Linked DNA regions of Homo sapiens: region 2 is linked to region 1. Evidence: fine-mapped expression QTL. A gene starts in region 1. The other region holds a variant in brackets. All regions are shown on one strand. Distances are between the middles of the regions. Region 1 holds the start of LIMD2 (LIM domain containing 2). Region 2 overlaps DCAF7 (DDB1 and CUL4 associated factor 7).

Region 1 (2,896 bases):
AGAAGCAAGAGTTGTGGAAAATGAGCTTGTCGGCCACCAGCCGCTCCATGGGGTACACGGTCTTCTGGCAGGCGGCGCAGGTCTCCTTCACCTGGGCCCGCAGGCTGAAGGACTGTGCGGGAAGCTCAGCCAGGTGCTGCCCCAGTGCTCATCCCGCTCCCTCACACCCCTCCTCCCGCACACCCGGCCCCAGGCCCCTACCTTGGAGCGCTGCACCGTGCTGCTGCCGCCGCCTTTGGCGTCCTGAGGGAGAGGGGCGGTCAGGGCAGGGGCAGCTCCGGGAGGCCCTGGATCAGGGCTGCAGCCATCAGCCCAAGGCCCAGGGGCGCGCCGCAGGGCACAAAGGGGGCCGGCAAACTCTGATGCCTCTCCCCTTCACCCCAGGCCAGGCTCCTGTCCGGGGGGCCCTCCCACCCAGCCGGGCACTTACATGAGAGGGGGTGGCCTGGGCGGCTCCTGCAGCCTGGAACATGGCTCGTTGGAGGTGGAAGCCTCGGGTGGAGAAGCGGCACCCGCTGGGTTCTGCAAGGGGAAGTCAGTCGGGAGGGCCCCGCCAGCCCGGCCCCAGCCTGCAGGGTGGGGGGTGTTGACAGGCAGGGGCTGGGGGGATTGCGGTTGGGACTTTCCCTAAGTCATTTCCTGTTGCTCTTGGTCTTGCCACTTCCGCCCCTCACCCACCTCCCCCACCCCTGCTCCCCAGGGGCCGGGGTCCCGAGTGGCACCGTCCCTCGGAAGAACAAAGTTAGCGGGAGCGGAGGGGCCGGGGGCTCCCGCGCAGCCGCCGTGTGCGTCCCGCGGGCTGGGACCGCTTGGGGTGAGGGGAGGTCGGGGCCGGCGGGGCCGCGATGAGAAGCCGCTGCCCCGACCTGACCCCGGCCCTCGCTGCCCTGCGCCGCGCCCGGGCGTCCAGGCCTAGGCTGCGCAGCCCCTGGACAGCGCCCGAGGTCCCCGCCCGCCCCGCCCCTCGGCCCCCGACCTGGCCCCGCGAGGACCGGACCCCAGACCCCGACGCCGCGAGCCCCGCCAGCGGGTCTCGGCTCCGCCCAGCCGGGGGCCGGCCCTGAAACGAGGACTCGAGCCTGTGCGCCCCGGGCGAGAGCGGCTCGCAGACTCGCCGGGACCCCACGGGCGGCCCTCACCCCACACCCCTCGGCGCCTCTCCCGGTTCCGGAGCCGGACGCGGCCCCTCCCCCCGCGGCTCTCACCAGGCCCGGCCTGGGCCGCGGGGCGGGATCGGTCTCCGGGGGCGCACGGGTACGAGGAGGGCGCGGGCGCGAGCTGCTGCCGCTACCAGTGGTCCCCGAGCCACCGCCGCCGCCACCGCCTTATCGCTGCACCGCCCCCGCCGGCCCCCGCCCCGCGCCCGCCCATTGGCTCCGCCGCGCCCGGAGCCGCCTTCGGGGCCCCGGCGCCGCCGCCGACCCCCCTCCGCGCTTTGTCTTCCCCTCGCCGCCGTCCCCGCCTTTGTCTGTCCCCCGCCCCGGCTCCGCGCTCCCGGCTCCGCAGCGCCCCGCGGGCCTCGCGCTCGCAGGCCTCGGGTACCGGCCGCGCCGTCTGCCCATCCCGACGGCGGCCCGGCGTGGGGAAGCAACGGTGGCAGGGACAGGATGGAAGGGCCGCGCTCCGCATCCTACTGGGAGGGGACGAGTTCAGGCTGCGGCGGCTGCGGTCGCGGGACACTGGGCGCTCCCGGCCTGGCTCCGGGATAACCGGGCGGGGCCTGGGCCATTCACTGCCTCGGTTTCCCCCGGTTGGCCTCGCGCGTAGGCGCCGGCGCCCCCATCCCCGCCCAGAGCTGTGGGGCCGCAGAGACCCAGCCGGGGCGACCCCGGAGCCTGGCCCGGGGTCCCTCGGGCGGCCGAGTCCTCCCGCCGCCAGGGGCCGCCCCCGCCCCTTTGCGGCCCACGAGGCTGGCGGCGGCGTCCGGGCACGCGGTCTCCAGGCCCGGCCGCGAGGCTGCGGGGAGGAGCCTGCACGAGGGCCCGGCAGCCCCGGCAGCCCCCCCAGCCCTCGGCGCCTCTGCAACCCTGCGACGGGCTGGGGAGGCCGGTATGCGTGGTTCCCGGAGCACCCGTCCCCCGAGGCTCCACGTACTCAAGCGTTTCTGGGGCGGAATTCTGTGGGCAGCAACGGGGGCCCCCTCTCCAACAAGCGCACCTCATTTCTCACGTGGGAGCCGCGGCCCAGAGAGCTGAGGTGACAGAGCTTGGGCCGCAGAGCTGCTCCCTCCCTGCAGCCGCACAGCAGGCCGGAGGCACAGCCGGCGAGAGACGGCCACTCGCTTTGGAGCGGCGGCGAGGCCGGCGCCTTCCCGGGCACCAGGGACTGCGTGGCTTGGCCGGAAATCAGGCTAGAAGCAGCTCCGGGAAGCACAGCCCTTAGCCCAGCGCCTTCCCACACTGTGGCAGGAATAGCACTGGCGGCCCACGCGCTTGTCAGGGAACAGAACAGCTCTCGCCCGACGCCTGGCAGGGGAGCAGGGAGGCTGCAGCTTCCCCAGCGACCAGCTGTTTCCCAGGCTGGCGGACTCCACGGACCGGCTCCGCGTCTCCTCTCCAGCCTTCTGTTCTCTCTAGAGGAAGATCTGCGTTTTGTCTGCACTGTGGGCCGACTCTCTAGTGGGGAGCGTCAGACCCTCTAAAGTGGCTGCCTCTCGGGAAAGCTTCCACACCTGTCATCAGATTCTCCAAAGGGGCTGTTTGATGCAAGAAACGGGAAGCCCCGGGGGTACTAGGAGCAGGGCTTGCTGCCATTGGGCATGGTGAGGCCCCGGCACCCTGCCCAGGACGGGCCTGTGGGCTGAGCTGCAGATGGGCATTGAGGATGCCCCAACAGCAAGGTGCAGAAGGCATCCAGAAGCAAAGGAAACTGATGACCAGCGTCAAAAACAAACAAA
Region 2 (2,896 bases), 120 kb before region 1:
GGATCTTGGAGGCTTCCCTCCACCCTCAGCTGAGCTCATCAGCAGCAGCGTCCTCTGTAGCATGGGCGTGGCCTTAGTACACCTGTGCAGAGGTTCCAGGCTGGGCAAAGTGAGAAGACCTCTCCTCTAGGAAGGTGCAGGGATGAAAATGTAGAAAACAAAGCTGGGCAGAGGAGAAAGTATGGGAAAAAGTAGCATTCAGGGAGTCCTGGGTTTATTACTGTTTTTGATAAAAATGTTTTCCCCTCATGTCTTATGTTTGCTAAGATATTTTCTAAACAGGGATTTTTTAAAAGACTTTTTATGAGGATAAGACTGGCTGATTTTTTTTAAAATTCTTGTTCCTTCAGGTTGGTGAAACAGAGACCAGGCTGGAGTGTTTGCTAAACAATAATAAGAACTCTGATTTCTGTGCTCCCCTGACCTCCTTTGACTGGAATGAGGTGGATCCTTATCTTTTAGGTAAGGGAGTTAGGGAGTATGTATTTCAGCTGGAAGAAGCCAAAATAAATTTTCTCAGATGTCACACTGGGCCATACATCCTAGAACAAGGCTCAGTGGGAAGTAGGCTAGGCGTGGAATGTGGTTATTTATTAATTCCTTTGTGTGGGTGAGCTTTCCGTGTGTATAGATCTTGTCTCTCCAGTTAGAATCTAAGGTCCTACGGTGAGGACTGAAGACTTGACTGCCTCGGTGGCTCTGCCGGTAGCCCCCACCTTGTTTTCTGTAGTCTTTATGGTATGCTGCTCCCTGGGCTGAGCAGATGAGTAAACACAAGAGGGAAGCTTGCATGAGAACCTTGGTCCCGTCAGCCCTGACTTGCACTGGTTGTTTGCAGGTACCTCAAGCATTGATACGACATGCACCATCTGGGGGCTGGAGACAGGGCAGGTGTTAGGGCGAGTGAATCTCGTGTCTGGCCACGTGAAGACCCAGCTGATCGCCCATGACAAAGAGGTAAGATGCTTTTCCATTTCGTCTTTCCTCAAATGCTTCCTGTGCCTTCCGCACAGGAAGAGGTCAGCTTGTTCTCTCATTGTTCTGCAATTTATGTAGAAAATCATAACATAACATCTTCTTGTCTAAATTGACAATAGTAATGTATCAAAAACGGGAAAACAACACTATTGTAAACTAATGCTTTTTTTTGGCTAATGTAAATGACCTATTCTACGGTCTGTCATTGTTCTTTTCATGCCAGAGGTTGCTTTTTTTAAATAACAAAGTCTCTTATAGAGGAGCTGGGAACTGATGTGATTAAAAAATAACTTTAGAGTAATACTTATCTTGAAACAGATTAGATTTGGGGAGGAAAGAAGGGAGACAGGAAGAGAAAAAATTTTCTGAGAGACAAACGTAATTATTCATTTTTCTCTATAAATGTTTTACCAAATCCTAGTATGTTCACTTAATCTTTATACTTTCATTACTGTTGGCAGTGGAGGCAATGGAATATATTTTATTTTGATGGCGATGCTTCTGTGTTTATTGGGAAAACTGAGAAGAGCTATTTGTGATTGCTTTTTTTTTTTTTTTTTTTTTTTTTTTTGAGACAAAGTTTTCCTCTTGTTGCCCAGGCTGGAGTGCAATGGCGCAATCTGGGCTCACTGCATCCTCTGCCTTCTGGGTTCAAGCAATTCTCCTGCCTCAGCTTCCGGAGTAGCTGAGATTACAGGTGCCCGCAACCACCCCTGGCTAATTTTTGTATTTTTTAGCAGAGACAGGGTTTCACCATGTTGGCCAGGATTGTCTCGAACTCTCCTGACCTCAGGTGATCCACCCACCTTGGCCTCCCAAAGT[G/A]CTGGGATTACAGGCGTGAGCCACTGCGCCCGGCCAATTGCATTTTAATCAAAGCATTCTTCTCAGTGATTTTGGAAAATCCCCATAAGTCTTTTCCTCCTACAGCCATTGCATGCTCCTGGTACTCTCATCTCCTGTGGGTACTATTTCCTGTTCTTTTCTACCTTACCCTGCACAGCTAGGGGTATTAATATCTATACAGATAAAAGGAATGCCTTGATCTTAGGTCAGAAACTTGAGGTTGTCAACAGCATAGGAAGATGTGACCCAGGTTATCATTCTTAGTAAGGGGTTGTCTTTGGCTTTCTGTACTCCTGAAGGTAAGCCCTGTTACAAGACTTCTAGAGTTGACTGCTGCTAAACCAGGGGTCAAATGAAGAGTTTGTCCCACAGAGAGGACCAGTAAGGAACTTCTGGAAACCCTCTTGGCATCAAGTTGAACAAGCGGCTACATTTTAGTTATATGACAACTTAGCCTGCTGTTGTCTGTTAGGTCCAACCCAGAAAATGGGAACTACTCTTAAGTATTTGAACTGCAGGGATTTAATCCAGGGGCTGCTTATACAGAAGATGGTAAAGCTGAGAAGCCACATAGGTAGCAGTGAGGTCATCCATAGAATGGGAGCAGCAGGAAGCTGCAGCTGCCTATAGGCCAGAGGGACCATGGGAGGAGGCAGGGTTCCTGGAGCCCAGGGGCTGGATTTACCTGGCAGAGACGCTTCTAGGAACAGAGAGAGGGGAGGAGAAATACCTTAGCTTTTCCCTGCCTCCCATCATCCATTTTCCCACCAAAGCCTCCCATGGCTGAACCAGCCAGAAGCAGCCAGCAGATCTGAGACCCTGCCAAATGCACGCTGTAGGAATCAGTTCTCTTGTGACACAGAGAAGAAGAGCAGGGAGAAAGGCCAGGAATGGATCTTGACAGCAGACAGGCCTGGACCGGCAGCCTTGTCTTGAAGGAATAAACCTGAGAAAGGATAGTGGCTCTAGAGAAACAGTAATAGCACCTTTCTAGCACCTTTGATTTTTCTCAGTCCACCTTTCTCTAGGAAAAGACTTGTTTGGAAGGCTCTCATTGATACCTGGCAGATCAGTG

What was found.
Region 2: its variant is fine-mapped to the expression of LIMD2 in whole blood (TOPMed, PIP above 0.99).

The regions. Positions count from the first base shown.
Region 1 is chr17:63,698,827-63,701,722 of GRCh38, forward strand. LIMD2 (LIM domain containing 2) reads right to left here and starts at 1,299. Exons shown (of 5, transcript NM_030576.4): 1 at 1,206-1,299; 2 at 431-522; 3 at 202-243; 4 at 1-112. The coding sequence starts at 472. It overlaps LOC729683 (a long non-coding RNA gene), which reads left to right and starts at 1,512. Exons shown (of 1, transcript NR_046273.1): 1 at 1,512-2,896. RefSeq lists silencers at 178-407, 498-957, 1,048-2,007 and enhancers at 1,712-2,297, 2,298-2,882, 2,678-2,777.
Region 2 is chr17:63,578,987-63,581,882 of GRCh38, forward strand. DCAF7 (DDB1 and CUL4 associated factor 7) reads left to right here. Exons shown (of 7, transcript NM_005828.5): 3 at 351-462; 4 at 839-957. Among named protein-coding and RNA genes, the nearest start is that of TACO1, 20 kb to the right of the region's middle. The variant G/A (reference allele first, on the strand shown) is at 1,801.